2 separate regions of the Homo sapiens genome follow, and region 1 is linked to region 2. A link means that fine-mapping ties the variant in region 2 to the expression of a gene that starts in the linked region. Tissue or cell type: whole blood. Region 2 holds a variant in brackets; the other region holds the start of a gene. All regions are shown on one strand. Distances are from middle to middle.

Region 1 (5,707 bases), 130 kb before region 2:
AGCTGGGATTACTGCAACCTTCGCCTCCCAGGTTGAAGCGATTCTCCTGCCTCAACCTCCCGAGTAGCTGGGATTACAGGCATGTGCCACCAGACCTGGCTAATTTTTTGTATTTTTGGTAGAAACAGGGTATGTTAGCCAGGCTGGTCTCGAACTCCTGACCTCAGATGACCTGCCCGCCTCAGCCTCCCAAAGTGTTGGAATTACAGGCGTGAGCCACCATGCCCGGCCTATTTTTTCATACTTAATTGACCCATTTATTTTTATCAAATGTCCTTTTTATCACTGATAGTGCCCCTTGAGTTGAATTCTACTTTGATATTAATATAATCACTCCACCTTTCTGATTAGCATGTCCTTTTGCATCTTTTTAATTTCAGCCTCTTTGTGTCCTTATATTTAAATTATGTCTTTTTTTTTTTTTTTTTTTGAGACCAGGTTTCACTCTTGTTGCTTAGGCTGGAGTTCAATGGCGCAATCTCAGCTAACTGCAACCTCTGCCTCCCGGGTTCAAGCGATTCTCCTGCCTCAGTCTCCTGAGTAGCTGGGATTATAGGCATGTGCCACCACACCCAGCTAATTTTGTATTTTTAGTAAAGACGGGGTTTTGCCATGTGGGTCAGGCTCGTCTTGAACTCCTGACCTCAGTTGATCCACCCGCGTTGGCCTCCGAAAGTGCTGGGATTAACAGGCATGAGTCACTGTGCCCGGCCAAAATTATGTCTTCTTAAAACAGAATATATTTGGGTCTCGTTTTTAATCCAATGTGACAATTTCTGTGTTTTAATCCATTTACAGTTAGTAAACGGATTACATGTTTAGTCCATTTACATTCAATGTGATTACTAATGTGGTTGAAGTCTAACTGCTTGCTCTTTGTCTTTGCCTTATGTGCTTTTTGCTCCTTCCTTCCTGCTTTCTTTTGGATCAAGCATATTTTTGTATTCTATTTTATCTCTTTTCTTGGATTTTTAGCTGTATTATTTTTTATTAATTGCTCTAGGGATTACAATATTTTATTATTTTAAGACGGAGTCTTGCTCTGTCGCCCAGGCCGGAGTGCAGCGACACGATCTTGGCTCACTGCAACCTCCACTTCCTGGGTTCAAGCGATTCTCCTGCCTCGGCCTCCCGAGTAGCTGGGATTACAAGCCCACACCACCATGCCCGACTAATTTTTGTATTTTTAGTAGAGACGGGGTCTTCACCATGTTGGCCAGTGTGGTCTCGAACGCCTGACCTCAGGTGATCCGCCCGCCTCGGACTCCCAAAATGCTGCGATTACAGGCGTGAGCCACTGCGCTCGGCCGGGATTACAATATTTTAAATTATCACAGTATAACTTGAATTTGGGTTCTATCATGTCATCTACAATGTAAAAACCTTTGGAATCTAATTTTGAGACTCCACCCTAGGCACAGAAAAGGAGTAATCTGCTGATTTGAAAATGTGTGGACTGGGAACCAGAATGTTATCCAAAGCCCCTGTTTTGCAGGAATGTGAGAAAGTGATATCCGAATATTGAGTCAACTGGTAGATTGTCTCAATCCGCTGGTCAGGATTCATTTGCTGCTTTTTGCCTTACCGCAGAGCACAAGCGGGGGTAACCAAACCTTCATAATCTAGAGACCAGACTAGAATATCTGATGCCCATCCTTACTGTTCTCCGTAAGAACCAGGGGTCGCGGATGAATGGGGAGTGAGGTTGCTGCGGCTGAGCGGGGCGTTTAGGGCAGTTTTCCTAAACACGCCTGTGACCAGCTGACTCCACTCAGCGTTTCCGTGTGAGGTATGTTTCTTCACCGGCCTTTCAAGATTGTTTTTTGGCACGAGCTCAAATCAGGTTTTCTTCCGTCCGCCGTTCCCGCAGGTCTGCGCACGGATTTGTCCCTGGTTCCCGCAGGCAATGGGGCCGCAGGGGCCGGCCGGGGGGGTCCCCAGCGGGCTCTGCGCGCCGACCTGCAGCTGGGACCCGCGCCTGGAACCCTCCCGACGAGCGCAGGTGAGCGCCTCCTGCCAAGTGGGGCGGCGCCACACGGGCGTCCTGGGTGTCCCCCTGAGCTCCTTCCGCAGCTCAGGCCAACCCCCGCCCTGACCCGGTGGAGCCCCGGGACAGGGTGCGGACCCCGTTCCTTCGCGCTCCGAACCGGACGGACCCGCAGGAGGACCCCACGCCCGCTCCGCTCCGACCCCGCCGTCCCGCGCAGGCTGCGGTGACCCAGGCCGGCAGGTAGCCAGGGGCTCTCTGCCTGGGAGGACACCTTCGGCGGCTGGCGTGGGGAAAGGGGCCGCCCGGCCGGGGATGCCCCGCCAGGAGGAGGGAGCGGCCGGGGCCGCGGCCGGGAGGGAGGAGCGCCGGGAGGAAGAGGCCGAGCCGGGAGAGCCCCCGCCCCGGGAGGAAGGGGAGGAGGCCGAGTGTTTCCTGGCGCATTCCCGGCCAGCCCGAGTGACTCACTCGGCCAAGGAAACTCCCAGGGCCCGCCCAGGACCCCCAAGCCGCCGCGGACGCAGGTGAGGAACCCCGCTCGCCCGCGCCTGCCCTGCGGCCTCCGCGGGGTCCGGGTCCCCCTCGGAACCTGGGCCGGCCAGGGCGGCGGCGGGGCCGGGACGGACCCCCCCCTCCCCCCCAACCCCGGCGGCGCGGCCTCCCCGGCGGCGCGGCCTCCGGGATCGTCCTGGTCCCCGCGTCCCCCAGGTCCCGGCCCCGGGCTCCCGCGCCTCCCGGGCTCCAGGTCCCCGCACTCCCTGCACTGGCTTCCCGGTCCCTGCGCCCCCGGCCTTTCGGCCTCGGCCCCGAGCTCCCCGCCCCCGCGTTCACCGCCTCGCGCCCCCGGATCCCGGATTCCGCGCCCCGGCACATGGCACAGCTCCAGTGGCGAAGGAATACCTTAGTGTTTGACGTTTTTGTTGGAAAGTAAGGAGCAGGCAGATTGTTAATGTTGCACTAAGGTCGCGCAGCAAGATCTGAACCCGTTTTTGTTTCGTGCCCCTGTGAGGAGCGGAGGGAGCCTGGTCCGCGGAGCCATTCCGGGCATTCTTGGAGAGAGGAGTTTTGGGCTTTGTTAAGGAGGCGCGATCGTTACGGAGGCAGCACTGTTTCGCACAAGCATCTGAATTGTGTATTTTAAGGCTGAAATGCGTGAGCTTAATTTGCAGCACATTGTGGGTGTGACAAGAAGGGTGCAAGAATAATCGGGAAACGGGGTTGATGGAACGTGTTTTAAGCTGAGAGGGGCGTCTGGACGGTGTCAGCTCCGCTATTAAGTCCAGTCAGGGAGCGGCTGCTGATTGAGCCCAGCGCCGCGTGGTCGCCGCTGGGGACTGAGGCTCGGGAGCGTTTGTTTTCTGGCGGCGGAGGGCACCGTGGCTGCGCCGGGAGCGGTGGTGTTTCTTGCAGTCGTCCGTCGGACTCCGGAATGAGGCGTGGTCGGAGCCGCGGTGATGCCTGGTGCAGTGCGCACATTGCTATGCTTGACAGCTTGGCGGCAGAGTCCCGGCCAGGCCGGGACCCGCGGGGGCCCCACGCATGCTGCCTTTTCCCTGCGGGTGGCCAGCGGTTTTCCAAGTGATGTCTAGATCTGCAGGCACGGAGCCTGGAAGAACGAGTCACGCTGTGAGTGGGCGCGGGCCGTAGCAGGTGTGCACTCGTAGGGCCAGTAGGGATATAGTGCCGGTGCCCTCACTGCGACCGAGGCGCCCTGGAGTCGTGGCGGAGGACGTTTCCTGCGTTAAGACAGGTGTCTGTGCTGCGCTCAAAGAAAATGTACCCCCTAAGTTTGTGTGTGTGTTTAAATTTATTTTAAACTTTTAGTAAGATTCACTTTTTGGTGTTCAGTTCAGTGAGCTGTAGCAGGTGCATGGACTGTAGTGACTTCCACCGCAGTCAGGATACTCAGGAAGGCAGCCTCTCTCCTCCCCGCTCTTGCAGCCGCCTGTCTGTTCCTCAGTCCTCCTGCTTTGCCCATTCCAGAATGTCACATGTGGGCTTGGAGTCTGGCTTGTTTCGCTTAGCATAAGGCGTTGGAGATTCAGCTATGCTCTGGTTTGTCCCTGAAGAGTAAAGATACAAGGGTCTGAAAAGTGTGGCTCTCGGATACAGCCTGAGAGAGAGACTAAAATGATAAAGTGATGAGAAAAATTACAAAACTATAGTTCATTAAAAACATTAAACAGCATAGAACCGTGTATACTAAAAGTGAAATTCCCTCGGTACTTCTAAGTAGTATAATAGTCTTTTCTGTGCATAAGTAATTTTTTAAATAACATAGTGAGATCATATTGCATATATTATCGTCATACATTTTTCACTTAATGATGTTTGGTTACTTAAAGATCTTAGCAATCTTTACATGTTGATATATATAGTCTGTACACACAGATTTCCCTCAATCTTTTAAATAACCGTATAGTATTCCTTTTTTTTTTTTTTTTTTTTTTTTTTTTTTGTGACAGAGTCTTAACTCTGTGGCCCAGACTGGAGTGCAGTGACGCAAACTCGGCTCGCCACAACCTATGCCTCCTGGGTTCAGGTGGTTCTCCCACCTCAGCCCCCTGAGTAGCTGGGATTACAGGCACGCACCACCACACCCGGCTAATTTTTGTCTTTTTAGTAGAGACGGGGTTTTGCCATGTTGCCCAGGCTGGTCTTGAACTCCTGACCTCAAGTGATCTGCCCGCCTCAGCCTCCCAAAGTGCTGGTATTACAGGCATGAGCCACTGTGCCCGGCCAAATCACTATAGTATTCTGTAGTGTGGATGTTTCATAATTTTATCAGCCTCCTGTTGATTGACATTATAGTTATTTACTGTTTTTCACCACTACAGTCAATGCTTGTGTCTGTATCTTTGTGCACATACTCAAGTTTATAATGCTAAAGGTGACTTTGGGTTTAAATAATAGCTAACATCTCCCTCCCTCCTTTGTTTTCTTTTCTTTTATGTTATGTTATTTTATTTTATTTTTTGTGAGACAGGGTTTTGCTCTTGTTGCCCAGGCTGGAGTGCAATGGTGTGATCTCGGCTCACTGCAACTTCCACCTCCTGGGTTCAAGCAATTCTCCTGCCCCAGCCTTCCGAGTAGCTGGGATTACAGGCGCCTGCCACCACACCCAGCTAATTTTTGTATTTTTAGTAGAGACAGGGTTTTGCCATGTTGGCCAGGCTGGTCTCAAACTCCTGACCTCAGGTGATCCACCCACCTCGGCCTCCCAACGTGCTGGGATTACAGGCGTGAACCACCGCGCCCACCCAAAACATATTTTATAGTGTGAAGTTTTAACTAACATGTCCAAGCTATTCTCATTGTTTTTCCTATTAAAATTTAGCCAACCCTTAGAGGCCATTGATAAAGCATGGATTAATTACACTGACATAATTTAAAAACCTTATTTTAGCCAGTGCAATAGTATCAGACAAAGAAAGAAAAGGCATACAAATTGGAAAGGGAAAATTGTCCCTATTTGCTGACAACATGATTATCTACATAGAAAATCCAGGGAATCTATGAAAAAGCTACTAGAACTAATTAATGAGGTTAGCAAGGTCACAAGATACAAAGTCAACACACAGAAGGCGACCTTATTTTTCTTTTTTTTTTTTGAGACAGAGTTTCATTCTTGTTGCCCAGGCTAGAGTGCAATGGTGCGATCTCGGCCCACCGCAACCTCTGCCTCCCGGGTTCAAGCGATTCTCCTGCCTCAGCCTCCCG
Region 2 (5,707 bases):
GAGTCTACACCTAGAGGCCTCTCTTACTTCTGCTTGCCCCTTCGCACCCTGCCATAGCCACAGGAAGTGCATGTCCTGATCACAACAGAGTGAAGGGTACAGAACAAAATCGTCCCAGTGACTCACAGAACTGTGAGCATGATCTAAGTGCTCATTCCTCTATGCCACTGAGATAGCTAACTCACACACACAAACAGGCTTACTGCAAGTATGAAGTTTCCACCCTGATTTTTGAAAAACCAAAAATTTTCTGTAGAAAATGGGGATTCAGTGATGGGTAAAAGCTGGGTGATGGGTACACAGGGACTCATTGTATTACTATATCTGCTTTTGTGTATTTCTGAACATTTCCATATTAACGTTTTTAAAATACAACCTTTAGTGCTCAAAAGGTACAAGGATGCCAAGGTAGAAACCACCAGCAAGTCCCAAAAGCCAGGTCACCCCACAACCTAAGACAAAATAATACTGAAACACTGGGTCGGGCGCGGTGGCTCACACATGTAATCCCAGCACTTTGGGAGGCTGAGGCTGGTGGATCACAAGGTCAGGAGATCGAGTCATCCTGGCTAACACGGTGAAACCCCATCTCTACTAAAAATACAAAAACAAAATTAGCCGGAAGTGGTGGCAGGCGCCTGTAGTTCCAGCTACTTGGGAGGCTGAGGCGGGAGAATGGCATGAACCTGGGACGGGGAGCTTGCAGTGAGCCGAGATCGCGCCACTGCACTCCAGCCTGGGCGACAGAGCGAGACTCTATCTCAAAAAAAAAAAAAATACTGAAACATTGAAAGAAAACACTCAAGTCAAAAAGGTGCTGAGTTCTTCTAAGTATCAGTCATAATCTCATGGATGAGACTGTCTACCCGAAAGCCTTCCAGAACTGACCTCTCCCTTAACAGATTTGGAAAAGTACCCCTAGTCCCTCTGTGCCATTCATAAGGCAAGATTCCATGAGAAAAGTCTTAGGTGGGGAGTTTGGAGACCCCGTCTTGCTTCCAGCTGGAGGTGTGATCTTGGATGAGTCACCACATTAACAGATATATACATAAAAAGAAAGAAGCTGAACAATCTAAGGTATTACCCACTTTATGTGCCAAATACTGGTCATCTCAAGCCTCAAGTTAACTTCAGCATATCTATGGAATAATTCTAGATAGGTGAGTCTCATTGACAGTAAAAATAAATTACAGAGATGTAAACACATTTAAAGACAAGGTAGGAGAACTTGAAACAAGATGTCAGGGACAATCATCATTTCTACACGCTGTAAGATTGCAACAAAAAGCAGGTGTGCTTACACTGTTCCCACTGCATCCTGCATGGCTTGTTGATCTGTGTTTATCAGCCAGTCTCCTGCATCAGACTGTAAGCTCCTGGGCTCCTGCATGATATTCGCCCTTTTAGCCTATGCACATAGCTATCTGGTAGTCTCAAAATAGGTCTTAATGTGTGTTTTCTGGGTGAATATGGATGAATGGAGTAATTCTTTTTTTTTTTTTTTTTTTTTTTTTTGAGACAAGAGTCTTGCTCTGTCACCCAGGCTAGAGTGCAGTAGCATGATCTCGGCTCACTGCAACCTCTACTGCCCAGGTTCAAGTGATTCTCCTGCCTCAGCCTCTGAGTAGCTGGGACTACAGGCACATGCTGCCATGCCCAGCTAGTTTTTGTATTTTTAGTAGAGATGGAGTTTCACTATGTTGGCCAGGCTGGTCTGGAACTCCTGACCTCGAGTGATCCGCCCATCTCAGCCTTCAAAAAGTGCTAGGATTACAGCCATGAGCCACCACCCCAGCCAAATGGAATAATTCATAATTAGCCCTTAAAAACAGCCAGATACAGTGGTACACACCAGGAGGCTGAGGCAGAAGGATTGCTTGAAACCAGGAGTTCAAGTTTAGCCTGGGCAACATAGTTATGCCTGGTCTCAAACAAACAAACAAAGCAGCCATTAATACACAGAAAACTACTGCATCATTTAGATTGGCATCCTAAAATGTAACCGATGTTTTATAGCTTTTAAACTTGAGAACCATAATCATTTATCCAATATGCTAGCAAGTGGCAGTACTAGATGGAAGTGAAAATGCAAGGAAAATGGTTATACGGACTACGAAAATGGGAGTGAGAAACCGAGCTACCCAAACGCTTCAGCCCTCCTGGCAGGTATATCCTTCTCATGAGTCAGGGTCACCTCACTTCAATGAAAGCATTCCTTAAGATCATCCAACATAAAAATCATCGACCAGGCGTGGTGGCTCACGCCTGTAATCCCAGCACTTTGGGAGGCCGAGGTGGGCGGATCACCTGAGGTCGGGAGTTCGAGACCAGCCTGACCAACATGGAGAAACCCCGTCTCTACTAAAAATACAAAAATTAGCTGGGCGTGGTGGCACATGCCTGTAATCCCAGCTACCTGGGAGGCTGAGGCAGGAGAATTGCCTCAACCAGGGAGGCAGAGGTTGTGGTGAGTTGAGATAGTGCCATTGCATTCCAGCCTGGGCAACAAGATAGAAACTCTGTCTCAAAAAAATAAAAATAAGATAAAATAAAAAAGATCATCTGACATAAAAATCATCGGCCGGGCACGGTGGCTCATGCCTGTAATCCCAACACTTTGGGAGGCCGAGGTGGGCAGATCACGAGGTCAGGATTTCGAGACCATCCTTGCCAACATGGTGAAACCCCATCTCTACTAAAAATACAAAAATTAGCTGGCGCAGTGGCGGGTTCCTGTAATCATAGCTACTTGGGAGGCTGAGGCAGGAGAACTGCTTGAAGCCAGAAGGCGGAGGTTTCAGTAAGCCGAGATCACCCCACTGCATTCCACCCTAGGTGACAGAGCAAGACTCCGTCTCGGAAAAAAAAAAAAAGAATCATCATCCTCCTTTAATCTTTGTCTTCATGAAGCAATGTTCTTAATTATCATGCAAGTTCTACTGCTGTGGAAGTGACTACTTGACAGCTGTATTGCTCACTATATACTTTAAGTTCTATGGTAATGGAACAAATCAAATTTATAGTCTGAATATTCTGTAAGCAATAAAATTGAACCTTCTTACCAATAAAGATGATATCCAGAAAAAAGTCAGGTTTATCTACAGTTCTAATCCCAGTATAACAATAGACTCACAAGGCCGGGCGCGGTGGCTCAGGCCTGTAATCCCAGCACTTTGGGAGGAAGAAGCGGGCAGATCACCTGAGGTCGGGAGTTCGAGACCAGCCTGACCAACATGGAGAAACCCTGTCTCTACTAAAAATACAAAAAAATTAGCAGGGCATGGTGGCACATACCTGTAATCTTAGCTACTCGGGAGGCTGAGGCAGGAGAATCGCTTGAACCCGGGAGGCAGAGGTTGTGGTGAGCCAAGATTACACCATTGCACTCCAGCCTGGGCAACAAGAGCGAAACTCGGTCTCAAACAAACAAAAAAAAAACAACAACAAAAACAAAAAACAACAGACTCACAAATCCAAATTTAAATAATAATAATAATAATTATTATTATTATTATTATTATT[T/ATTATTATTAATT]TGGAGACAGGGTCTCATTCTGTCACCCAGGCTGGAGTGCAGTGGCACAATCATGGTTCACTGCAACCTCGACTTCCCAGGCTCAAGTGATCCTCCCACCTCAGCCTCTCAAGTAGCTGGGACCATAAGTGTGCAACACTACACCACCTGGCTAATTTTGGTATTTTTTGTCGATACAGAGTTTCACCATGTTGTCCAGGCTGGTCCCAAACTCCTGAGCTCAAGCGATCTGCCTGCCTCGGCCTCCCAAAGTGGTAGATTACAAGTGTCACCCACTGCATCCTGCCCAGATTTTACTTGTATCATGAACCTTTCAAATAACTGATTTGTAACTACTTAATTTACTAATATTTACTAACACTTAATGTTAACTTTCACTAAATGCAAGTTACATACATGTGGTGTAAGGTCTAACATTAAGAGCCAGTATTACATGTTGCCTTGACATCTGGTAAAAACCAGGAGCTTTTAATGGCCTCAGGGCAAGCTTCCCTCCCCAAGATGCCAAACAATTCTCATCACAGTGACCAGGCACAGGTACAGTTGCTGCTTATGCCTGAGGAGTAGGCCCCACTGCCCTGCCAGCCCAAGGAATTCTGAAAGCAATTATTAGTCTTTCTGCAGGAACCACAGCCACTCTCGTTACCACAAAGCCTTGCCTCCCGCAGCCCCTGGTTCTCCGTTCTATCCTAAGCGAAAGACTAAGAAACTTCCGTCCATCTCGTCTGTCCAGTGTCAGTACTGTGGGATGGAAATCCCTCTCTCACTGACAAGGTGAAGAGGTGATTAAAACAATACATATAATGGAATTTTACTCATTTAATCCTAAGGCCAATGAACATTATTCCTAACCTTACTAAGGCTATCATATGAGATTTTCTCCATATTTATTTTACATAAAGTTTCATGATGCTATTTAAAATCTATTTTCCCCTTTCCCTTTTATTTTAATTTATGTGTTATGGGAAATTTCAAACACAAAAAGCAGAGAGAAGGCCTTTTCTGACCAGCTGGGTCCATCATGTGCATATGGCTTTCGAGAGTCCCCCTGGCCAGGCACCCCTCTCCTGCCCACTTCATTTCCTAACACAGAAACCTGACACCCTCAGACAGGCCCTCCCCTCCTCCTCCTCCTGCAACCCAAAGCCTGCTCTCCACTCAAGGCCAGGGTACACCTTAAGCTGTGCTACAAAGACTTCTGCAATTAACTCCAGCCCACAGGCATTTTCTCTTCTTTACTATTTAATTCTCAACTACTGTTCTATCTTCAAGGTAAACTCTTTAAGTTCCTTAAAAACAATTACTTAGGTTTTCTGTGGTGGTTTCCCCACAAAAGGCACTCATTTACGGTAGCAAATTTGATTTACAAATCTTTCTAGAATGAGGCATATCACCAAATAAGGTGATCTGGTTGTTTCTTCATGCATGGAACTGTACCAGGGTGTATGTGTGGAGGGCTGGGGGATGACAAGCAGCATACAATTTGCAAGCCTTCAAATTATAAAGCAGCCTTCTGCCACCAAGAAAATAAGTGATCTCATTCTGACTTACAGTTTGAAAATAGGACATCAGAGGGAATGTCCTGAAAGGAATGAGTTGCTTCACTATTCTCAGACCTGGTCCCACTCTGCTCCCTCTCTCTGTAACTGAAGGTCTATCACAGCCGGGAGAGCCTGCAACAGAGATATTTTTTCTTCTTAAGAATTAGCCATGAGGCAGGGCCAGTATTAAAGACAGATAAACAGTAAAATTTTCTAAATTTCACTTCAACTAGGTTCCCAAGCTCCATGTGGTTCACCTGCCCAGTTTACTTAGGGGGACTCGGGAGTAATCCGAACTGTGACCATTGCTCAACAAACACTGAGCAGCTATTATCTGCCAGGCACTGAAGTTGTAAAGATGATCAAAGGGCCTATCCTCAAGGACTCCACGACTAAGAGAATTAAAAATTCCAAAAATAACCTACTGACGTTTTAAACACTTTTAAAGAGTCTTATGATTTTCTGCTTATTCTGTGTGTGGGAGGGGAAGGGCTTTTTTGTTGTTGTTGTTGTTGTTGTGGTTTTTGACAGTGTCTCACTCTGTTTCCCAGGCTGGAGTGCAGTGGCGCGATCATCGCTCACTGCTGTCTCAAATGCCTGGGTTGCAGTGATCTCTGACCTCAGCTGCTCAAATCAACAGGACC

Evidence for each region. PIP is the estimated chance that this variant, and not a neighbour inherited with it, causes the effect.
Region 1: it holds the start of CYFIP1, and the variant in region 2 is fine-mapped to the expression of CYFIP1 in whole blood (INTERVAL, PIP 0.92).

The regions. Positions count from the first base shown.
Region 1 is chr15:22,977,091-22,982,797 of GRCh38, reverse strand. CYFIP1 (cytoplasmic FMR1 interacting protein 1) reads left to right here and starts at 2,430. Exons shown (of 31, transcript NM_014608.6): 1 at 2,430-2,511. RefSeq lists enhancers at 2,165-3,133, 3,134-4,101, 5,231-5,707.
Region 2 is chr15:22,844,634-22,850,340 of GRCh38, reverse strand. NIPA2 (NIPA magnesium transporter 2) reads right to left here. Exons shown (of 8, transcript NM_030922.7): 3 at 5,074-5,195. Among named protein-coding and RNA genes, the nearest start is that of NIPA2, 8.8 kb to the right of the region's middle. RefSeq lists enhancers at 4,906-5,015, 5,570-5,679. The variant T/ATTATTATTAATT (reference allele first, on the strand shown) is at 3,523.